Regions from separate parts of the Homo sapiens genome. Here region 2 is linked to region 1. Evidence: fine-mapped expression QTL. A gene starts in region 1. The other region holds a variant in brackets. All regions are shown on one strand. Distances are between the middles of the regions.

What was found. PIP is the estimated chance that this variant, and not a neighbour inherited with it, causes the effect.
Region 2: its variant is fine-mapped to the expression of PABIR3 in whole blood (TOPMed, PIP above 0.99). The same link has a PIP of 0.9 or more in thyroid.

What each region holds. Positions count from the first base shown.
Region 1 is chrX:134,804,991-134,810,371 of GRCh38, forward strand. PABIR3 (PABIR family member 3) reads left to right here and starts at 2,247. Exons shown (of 11, transcript NM_001388447.1): 1 at 2,247-2,351; 2 at 2,550-2,718. The coding sequence starts at 2,609. RefSeq lists enhancers at 2,604-2,763, 3,149-4,105.
Region 2 is chrX:134,834,064-134,839,444 of GRCh38, forward strand. All of the region lies in intron 4 of PABIR3 (PABIR family member 3), which reads left to right. Among named protein-coding and RNA genes, the nearest start is that of PABIR3, 30 kb to the left of the region's middle. The variant C/T (reference allele first, on the strand shown) is at 2,969.

The sequences.
Region 1 (5,381 bases):
ATAGAAATGATTTACCTACTTTACAAGATAACTATGAAAGATAGGCTATTTAAACCTGCATTTATTCATAAAATAATTTCAGAAGTATTTATCAAGTGCTTATGAGTACAGAAATTCAAGGAGATATTCTGAGGCATCTCATTTTTTTTTTTACTTAAACAGAAGGGCAGAGGAATCTTGGCTTTGCCACTTAGTAGTTGCAACTTGAGTAAACCCCTCTGGGCTTTGGTTTCCTCCTGTGAAAAATGGGCATTGTGATGGTGCCTACCTCAAAGAATTATTGTAAACTTTAAATGCAATCACCTATTTAAAGTGATTAGGACAGTACCTGGCACATAGTAAGTGCCCAACAAACGGTAGCTATTACTAATCTGTCTTATATAAGGAATGGAGACTCCACATCATCCTCATGTCTGGGATTTAAGTAATCTAATTCTGCCTAATATACTCAAGTTTGTCTTATTCTATTCCCAGAATGAACAAAGAATACATATTTATTACCTTACATGTCATAACTTGTCACGAACTATCTCAAGACTGTCCCATTATTTTAAGTTCACCACTGGGTAGCTGAGCAGGGTTGATGATTGAACCAATCCAGATAAGTATGTGAAAACATTTTGTAGGCCAGGCGTGGAGGCTCATACCTGTAATCCCAGCACTTTGGGAGGCCGAGGCGGGTGGATCACCTGAGGTCGGGAGTTCGAGACCAGCCTGACCAACATGGAGAAACCCCATCTCTACTAAAAATACAAAATTAGCTGGGAGTGGTGGCACATGCCTGTAATCCCAGCTACTCTGGAGGCTGAGTCAGGAGAATCGCTTGAACCAGGGAGGTGGAGGTTGTGGTGAGCCAAGATTGCGCCATTGCACTCCAGCCTGGGCAACAAGAGCGAAACTCCGTCTCAAAAAAAAAAAAATGTTATCCGTAAAGTGCTATACCAGTGTTATGACTATTTTAATTAATAACTCCCATTTCACTAGGTTTATTTGCCTTGTCTGCCAGTTCTCTATATGGTTACTAAAATGTGTGGTTTTACAAAATTATTAGCATGGAGTTAAGATTTCAGTACTCAGTGTGGCTCATTAAGTGATGGTGAAAATTTCTAAAAGAGTAGTTCTTAAAACGATATGAGCCATGGCAGCATTCTTAGAATGTATGTAGCTTCTAATACTACCTGAAATGAAAACACTGATTTGCATTGATACTAAATTCTGAGATATTTGTTTTTAAAAAAGCCTCACTGCTTTAACTCAAATCTTTGTAAATTAGCTGAGGTCTTTATTTTTTATATGAATAGCTGTGAGGAGCCAGATTATATATAATGTAAAAATACACACTGAGGCAGGCGCGGTGGCTCACGCCTGTAATCCCAGCACTTTGGGAGGACGAGGCGGGCGGATCACCTGAGGTCCAGGAGTTCGAGACCAGCCTGGCCAACATGGTGAAACCCCGTCTCTACTAAAATACAAAAATTAACCAGGCGTGGTGGCGAGCACCTGTAATCCCAGCTACTCGGGAGGCTGAGGCAGGAGAATCGCTTGAACCTGGGAGGTGGAGGTTGCAGTGAGCCGAGATCGCGGCCACTGCACTCCAGCCTGAGCAACAAGAGCGAAATTCCATCTCAAAAAAAAAAAAACAAAAAACTGTACGATTATGGTTTAAAAAAGAAAGAAAGAAACCACACTGAAAACAGTAATTCGTTTGCCAAATGAGCTCAGTTAGGTTAGCACCTTAGCAAGACCCTTTGGGACCAAGTGGCCTCTAAGCACTTAGGTAGCAGTATCTTTTTTTTTTTTTTTTTTTCAGACTTTTGCTTTTCTAAAATTACAAAGGTGTAGTGTGTCTGCTGTTACAGGATGGAAAAATGCATCATAGGAGGTTAGAAGCTTGTTGGCCTCAGTCATAAAGGGATAAGAAAAATGAGAATTAGGCATAGGGCAGGAAGGACCTCACTCCTCCCAACGCTTTCATTTCTAAATAATGCTTAAGGAAACCATGCCAGGGTTAGTAAAAGAGTAGAGGCACAACCACGGTAAGTGGGCATTGGGGAAAGAGGAAGGAGGGCAGGACATGGGGATAAAGCGGTTTCTTAACTGCGCGTGCGCCCCTGGCAAAGCTGACTAAGGCGCCTGAAGTGACGTCATTGCCTGCATCACAACAGGCGTCGTCCGGCTGATAGCTTATCGCAGGCTCTGAGGGGCGGGACCCAACTGATTGTCAAAGGCGGCAGATTGTAGTTTTTGTTTTGGCCGGAAAGGCTTACCATGAGTTGCCAGGGCTGAGAGAGATGGAGAAGGATTCGCGGCGGTGACAGATTAAATTCCCCAGTTACATTATAGACTTGGAGGTGGGGGATCTTCTCATCGTTAGAGGCCCCGATCATGGGAGATAGGCGGTTCGGAGCCAGTTCTGCCTAACTTTGTGTTCACTGATGTTAGGGCTGCTAGGGCTGCAAAGGTGGGCACCCCTACTCGCCTAAGAGCTTTCTCCTCTCTTCTCTTTTTCCCCTTTGCCTCTCTCCTTACATCACCTGCCCACTAAGTAGACTTGTCCTTGTGTGGACGGGAGCCGGAAAGCCTTGAGAACTTATTCCTCGACCCGGACATGGCACAGGAGAAAATGAAACTAGGTTTCAAGTCGCTGCCGAGTTCCACTACCGCAGACGGCAACATTCTGAGAAGAGTCAACAGTGCCCCTTTGATCAATGGACTTGGGTGAGCCGGGTTGAGATACTGGAGGAGGCAAGCGGTGGGGAGGAGGTGTTCGGGAAAGTGATTTCCTATAGAATTCCCGTCCCTTTATTTGTTGAGGTTCTGCAGGTAACTCCCTTGTTCCTGGTGTCCGGAGATCCCACCCTCAACCTTGGGTGGGGGTAGTGGGACGGGCTGACCTGAGGGGGAGCGCGCACCCACCCTGAGGTTGACAAACATCTGAATCTGAACATCCTCCCCTGATAGTCCACTCGGACCCGAAAGTAGCAGCCAGTTGGTGTGGAGCACGGCTTTTTTCTAACTTCAACCCATTTCTTACCCACTCCTTTGAAGAAACTTAGTATCCTCCCCCACTCACCTCCAGATCTTCTGCCATGACTGTAATATTTGTCATTTCAGCTGCTTTGTCACCTCTGACCTTCACCTCCAGCCGCTTGAATGGAAATGGTTGTCAAGCAAATAAGCTTTGGACTTTTTTACATTTTTTTTTTTGTCTTTTTTTGAGACGGAGTCTTGCTCTGTCGCCCAGGCTGGAGTGCATTGGCACGATCTCAGCTTACTGTAACCTCCGCCTCCTGGCTTCAAGCAATTCTCATGCCTCAGCCTCCCTAGTAGCTAGGATTACAGGCGCCCACCACCACACCTGGTAATTTTTTGTATTTTTATTTTTTATTTATTTGTTTATTTATTTTTGAGACGGAGTCTCACTCTGTCGCCCAGGCTGGAGTGCAGTGGCGTGATCTCGGCTCACTGCAAGCTCCACCTCCCGGGTTCACGCCATTCTCCTGACTCAGCCTCCCAAGTAGCTGGGACTACAGGCGCCCACCAACACTCCCGGCTAATTTTTTGTATTTTTAGTAGAGACAGGGTTTCACCGTGTTAGTCAGGATGGTCTTGATCTCCTGACCTCGTGATCCGCCCGCCTCGGCCTCCCAAAGTGCTGGGATTACAGGCGTAAGCCACCGTGCCCGGCCTAATTTTTTGTATTTTTAGTAGAGACAGGGTTTCACCATGTTGGCCAGGCTGGTCTCGAACTCCTGGCCTCAGGGGATCCGCCTGCCTCAGCCTCCCAAAGTGCTGGTATTACAGACGTGAGCCACTGCTCCTGGCCTACACCTATTTTTTATTGGAGCAGAAAGTTTTGGTACCACAGAAGCTTGATCTCCTAAATTACACATTCTCACTGGGTGATACTTCCCCCAAGGGGAAGAGAAAATAGTTCTTGGGGGAGTGTGAAAAATTTTTACTCTTTTTATGTATAAAGCGCAGATATACATACAGTATGTACACAGATATATACTATATATGTGTTATTAAAATTTCACGAAGGGGGAGCAATTAGGGGAAAAATGTCTAAAAAGGCTTTTTAGAGGGTCAATAATGAAAAAAGGATTTAGAAACACTACACTAAATGATGGTTAACTGTATTTCTGAAGATCTGGGATTACTAAATCTTGTTTCCTTTTTTTTTTTTTTTTAAGACGGAGTCTCACTGTGTCGCCCAGGCTGGAGTGCAGTGGCATGATCTCGGCTCACTGCAACCTCTGCCTCCCGGGTTCAAGCGATTCTCCTGCCTCAGACTCCCGAGTAGCTGGGACTTCAGGCACCCGCCACCACGCCCACCTAATTTTTTGTATTTTTAGTAGAGACGGGGTTTCACCGTGTTAGCCAGGATGGTCTTGATCTCCTGACCTTGTGATCCGCCCACCTTGGCCTCCCAAAGTGTTGGGATTACAGGCGTGAGCCACTGCGCCTGGCCTAAATCTTACTTCTTAAACTAGACTTTTAAAATGAGATGTTGGATTTCACATTTCAGTATTATAAGGTTTTCTAGATACCGTAAAAATGTCTGAAAAATGCATTCACTACATATGTTACTAACTTTGCTCTTCACCTTTTGTTGCATCATACTAATTGATAGTTGTAATTCACAGTACCATAGACTATCAGGAAGGGATTCAGAGACCAGCTTTACCCTCCTTGTTTAACATATGAGGAAACTGAGGCCCATAAATCTCCAAAATGACGTTTAGTGGCAGAGCCAGTACTAGGAAGCTCTGTTTCCTGACTCCTAAACTACTGTTCTGGCCACTACTAACCAATACCTAAGCTGATTAACTCTAAATGAATGCAGCTTTTGGGTCATTTGAGGTAGGAGAGAATATATTGTTCACAAAATGAAAAGCAAACTAAGATTGACCAAAAAAAAATACATTACCTTTTTAAAATAGGCAGGTAGAAAAACATAGAAGGGGGACTCTGCATGTTGTGCTGAGAACAAGAACATTTTATTCACTCAGGATTTTGCTCTAATTCTGTTGTGGGAAAAAGGAATTATGGGACCCACTCTACTAGTAGAAGAGAGCAGTAGGGAGAATGTTGGATTTATTGAAGACAATATAAAAAGAAGAAATAGGTTGCAAATAGACGATGGAAGATGTGTACTGGAAGGAACCTGTGGATCCTCTTTAATGTATTAAATACACCAGAGAAGGAGTGGACCCTTCCCTAATCCTTAAAGCCCTGGAAACAGAGAGATCTCAGTTATCCCTTCATACCTTGCTTTGTTCTGCAAAGGATTTTTTTGTTTTGTTTGTTTGTTTTTTGCTTATATTAGAGCATAGCTACAGTGTTACATTCCATAGCTTAAGATCCTGATGCATGAA
Region 2 (5,381 bases), 29 kb after region 1:
CTGGTTCTAGATCCTTGAGGAATCGCCACACCGTCTTCCACAGTGGTTGAACTAATTTACATTCCCACCAACAATGTAAAAGCGTTCCTATTTCTCCACAGCCTTGCCAGCATCTATTGTTTCTTGAGTTTTTAGTCATCGCCATTCTGACTGGCATGAGATGGTATGTCACTGTGGTTTTGATTTGCATTTCTCTAATGATCAGTGATGTTGAGCTTTTTTTCGTATGTTTGTTGGCCACATAAATGTCTTCTTTTGAGAAGTGTCTGTTCATATCTTTTGCCCACTTTTTGATGGGGTTGTTTGTTTTTTCTTGTTTCAGTTCCTTGTAGATTCTGGATATTAGACCTTTGTCAGATGGGTAGATTGCAAAACTTATCTCCTATGCTGTAGGTTGCCTGTTCACGCTGATGATAATTTCTTTTGCTGTGCAGAAGTTCTTTAGTTTAATTAGATCCTATTTGTCAATTTTTGCTTTTGTTAGAATTGCTTTTGGCATTTTCATCATGAAGTCTTTGCCCATGCCTATGTCCTGAATGGTATTGCCTAGGTTTTCTTCTAGGGTTTTTATGGTTTTGGGTTTTACATTTAAATCTTTAATCCATCTTGAGTTAATTTTTGTATAAAGTATAAGGAAGGGGTCCAGTTTCAGTTTTCTGCATATGGCTAGCCAGTTTTCCCAGCACCATTTATTGAATAGGAAATCCTTTCCCCATTGCTTATTTTTGTCAGGTTTGTTGAAGAGCAGATGGTTGTATATGTGTGGTGTTATTTCTGAGGTCTCTGTTCTGTTCCATTGGTCTATATCTCTGTTTTGGTACCAGCACCATGCTGTAAAACAGCATTTTCTGCCTGTTTTTTGTTCCATGCCTCTTATTTATTGAAGAAACCAGGGAGTCCATTTGTCCTGTAAAATGTCCCACATTCTGATTTTGCTTCCATGTGGTGTTACTATGTTGTTTTATCCTCTATTTCCTGTTAAATAGTTTTTTTAATTTTTATTTATTTATTTATTTAGACGGAGTCTTACTCTGTCGCCCAGGCTGGAGTGCAGTGGCACGATCTCGGCTCACTGCAACGTCTGCCTCCCTGGTTCAAGCGATTCTGTAACCTCAGCCTCCCGAGTAGCTGGGATTACAGGCGCCCACCACCCCACCCAGCTAAATTTTTTTTTTTTTAAGTAGAGAGGGGGTTTCATCATGTTGGCCATGGTAGAGAGGGGGTTTCACCATGTTGGTCTCAAACTCCTGACCTCAGGTGATCCGCCCATCTTGGCCTCTCGAAGTGCTGGGATTACAGGCATGAGCTACCGCGCCTGGCCTCCTGTAAAATAGTATGATGAAATTTGCTTTTAATTTTAAATGAACACACAGCTCCAAGTCAATGTTAGGTTCTGGGCCAATATTTGGTTTATGTTACACCTTTCCTATTAAGCAGGTAATGGACAATTTCTTCTCAACTGTTGTTGTTAGCTGTTTTCTAAGTATTAAAGAGACTGAGACATCAAGCTAGAAGTTAATTTTCTAAACACAGTTATTATTCCTACATAGGAATTATTTTGTGTAATTTTCCTTTCTAATAAAAATTTTATTTTATTTATTTATTTTTCAGACAGGTTCTTGCTGTGTTGCCCAGGCTGGAGTGTAGTGGCATGATCATAGCTCACTGCAGCCTCAACCTTCTGGGCTAAAGTGATCCTCTTGCCTCAGCCTCCCAACTAGCTAGGACTACAGGTGCACACCACTATGCCTGGATAATTTTTTTATTTTATTTAATTAATTTATTTATTTCTGAGACGGAGTCTCGCTCTGTTGCCTAGGCTGGAGTGCAGTGGCATGATCTCGGCTCACTGCAACCTTCGCCTCCCGAGTTCAAGCAATTCTCCTGTCTCAGCCTCCCGAGTAGCTGGGACTACAGGCACCCACCACCACACCTGGCTAACTTTTGTATTTTTAGTAGAGACGGGGTTTCACCATATTGGTCCGACTGGTCTAGAACTCCTGACCTCAGGTGATCCACCCGCCTCGGCATCCCAAAGTGCTGGGATTACAGGCATGAGCCACTACGCCTGGCCATTTTTTTAAATTTTTGGAGAGATGACGTCTCCCTGTGATGCCCAGGCTGGTCCTGAAATCCTGGCCTCAAGTGGTACTCCTGCCTCAGGCTCCCAAAGTACTGGCATTACAGGCATGAGCCACCACGTGTGGCCCCTAATAAAAATTGAGCTTGTATTCCAAAAGATCCGAATGCATTCAGTCTGTAGTTCCCTGTTTCCCAAAGCTCTAAACATAAATTAGTGCCATGCAGAAACAGTTTGTATATTTGCTCAGGCTGCCATTGCAAAGTATCACAAACTGGGCGGCTTAAACAACAGAAATATATTGTTTCACATTTCTTAGGGCTAGAAGTCTGAGATAAAGGTGTCAGTAGGGTTGATTCCTTCTGAGAACTGTGAGGGAGGATCTGCTCCAGGCCTCTGCCCTTGGCTTGTTGATGGCTATCTTCATGTTCACATAGTGTTCTCCGTGTACATGTGTTTGTTTCTAAGTTTCTCCTTTTCATGAAGGACAGCGGTCATATTGGATTAGGGCCCACCCTAATGACCTCATCCTAATCTGCTTGCTTCTGAATATATTCTGTCTCTAAATAAGGTCACATCCTGAGGCACTGGGGATTAGGACTTCAACACAGGAATTTGAGGGGACACAATTCAACCCATAACAGTCTGCTCACAGTTTTTTGTTATATAGCTTTATATTTAATTCCTGATTTGTTAAACAGGATATGAGTCATTGGCACCCAGTAACAACTTAACTTTCTCTGTAGTGTCTTAAGTAAAAATCAATAAGAAGAAATTGAGCTGGGCGTGGTGGTTCGTGCCTGTAATTCCAGTGACTTGAGAGGCCAAAGCAGGAGGATCACTTGAGGCCAGGAGTTCAAGACCAGCCTGGGCAACATAAGAAGACTC[C/T]GTCTTTAAAAAAATTTTTTTTTTAATTTGCTGGCCGGGCACGGTGGCTCACGCCTGTAATCCCAGCACTTTGGAAGGCCGAGGCGGGTGGATCACCTGAGGTCAGGAGTTCGAGACCAGCCTGACCAACGTGAAGAAACCCCATCTCTACTAAAAATATAAAAATTAGCCAGACCTGGTGAGGCATGCCTGTAATCCCAGCTACTCGGGAGGCTGAGGCAGGAGAATCGCTTGAACCCGGGAACCAGAGGTTGCAGTGAGCTGAGATTGTACCACTGCACTCACTCCAGCTGGTGTGACAAAGTAAGACTCCTTCTCCAAAAAAAAAAAATTTAAATTTGATTTTAGTTTACAGATTGTTTCATTCTTTCAACAAGCCTTTATTGGGTACTGTGCAGGCACTCAGTAACTAAAATCTTTCAGATGTAGTCTCCTCGGAGAGCAAAAGTTGGTAACTTACAGTTCCCATTTTTACCATGTATCCTGAAAAATGGAAAGCTAACTTTAACATCCAAGTATAACAATTCTCCTTAAACTAGGTTTCTAGTATACTGTACTCTGCTTCTTACAGTTATAATGCATGGCTGTTGACCTTTTATACTTATTTTAATAATCTTATTTTATTATAAACCATCTCAAATCCATTTTGGAAATAGGCAAGACATAAATGAAAAAGAGTCAACACTCTTCTCCTAACAACCTTCAATAGCTGATTTTAGCTAATGCTCCAACTTTCAGTGGGAGGAATATTAAGCAGAATTCTATCTCAGTTTCACAAAACTACCTGCTCTGTACTTGTTGACCGAATGAACTACAAAATACTTTGAGTTTCACACTAGAGGAGACTATCTATATAATATTAAATTGAAGAACTATACTAACAATTACATTTTGCTGAATTTACTGTTATTCCATTGCTTTTAAAAGACTAATTATCTTCTTAAATTACCTTTTCCAATTCCCTCATTTTCTGTACCTCATTGTGTGGTATCAAAATAGTCACAGTTTTAAGACTCAAAGCTCTCGATTTGATACCTCATTGTATGGTATCAAAATAGTCACAGGTTTAAGACTCAAAGCTCTTGATTTTTCTTCAGTTCTTCCTTATTTTTCTACTGTATCCAATTAGGCTTCTAATCCTACTAATTCTTCCTTGACAATATCCTCTTTGTTGTCACTGCTGCTTCCTTCTTCTGTCCCATGGGTCTAGATTACTGAAATAATATCCCAGTAGATTTTCTGTTTCTCCCAGTTTATCCAACTTCCACAATGAAGACCAAGATAAATGTTTTTTTTTTTTGGAACAGAGTCTCGCTCTGTCGCCCAGGCTGGAGTGCAGTGGCGCAATCTCGGCTCACTGCAACCTCTGCCTTCTGGGTTCACGCCATTCTCCTGCCTCAGCCTCCCGTGTAGCTGGGACTACAGGCACCTGCCACCACGCCCAGCTAATTTTAGTAGAGACGGGGTTTCACCGTGTTAGCCAGGATGGTCTCGATCTCCTGACCTCGTGATCCAACCACCTCGGCCTCCCAAAGTGCTGGGATTACAGGCACAAGCCACTGTGCCTGGCCAAATTTTTTTTTTTTAAAAAACATCATTTTCCTCCCTCTCCCTCTCCCCCTCCCCCTCCCCCCTCCCCCCCTCCCCCCTCCCCCTCCCTCTCCCCACGGTCTCCCTCTCCCTCTCTTTCCACAGTCTCCCTCTGATGCCGAGCGGAAGCTGGACTGTACTGCTGCCATCTCGGCTCACTGCAACCTCCCTGCCTGATTCTCCTGCCTCAGCCTGCCGAGTGCCTGCGATTGCAGGCGCGCGCAGCCACACCTGACTGGTTTTCGTATTTTTTTGGTGGAGACGGGGTTTCGCTGTGTTGGCCGGGCTGGTCTCCAGCTCCTAACCGCAAGTGATCTGCCAGCCTCGGCCTCCCGAGGTGCCGGGATTGCAGACGGAGTCTGGTTCACTCAGTGCTCAATGGTGCCCAGGCTGGAGTGCAGTGGCGTGATCTCGGCTCGCTACAACCTCCACCTCCCAGCCGCCTGCCTTGGCCTCCCAAAGTGCCGAGATTGCAGCCTCTGCCCGGCCGCCACCCCGTCTGGGAAGTGAGGAGCATCTCTGCCTGGCCGCCCATCGTCTGGGAGGTGAGGAGCCCCTCTGCCTGGCTGCCCAGTCTGGAAAGTGAGGAGCGTCTCTGCCCGGCCGCCATCCCATCTAGGAAGTGAGGAGCGCCTCTTCCCGGCCGCCATCCCATCTAGGAAGTGAGGAGCGTCTCTGCCCCGCTGCCCCGTCTGGGATGTGAGGAGCGCCTCTGCCCGGCCGCGACCCCGTCTGGGAGGTGAGGAGCATCTCTGCCCGGCCGCCCCGTCTGAGAAGTGAGGAGACCCTCCGCCTGGCAACCGCCCCGTCTGAGAAGTGAGGA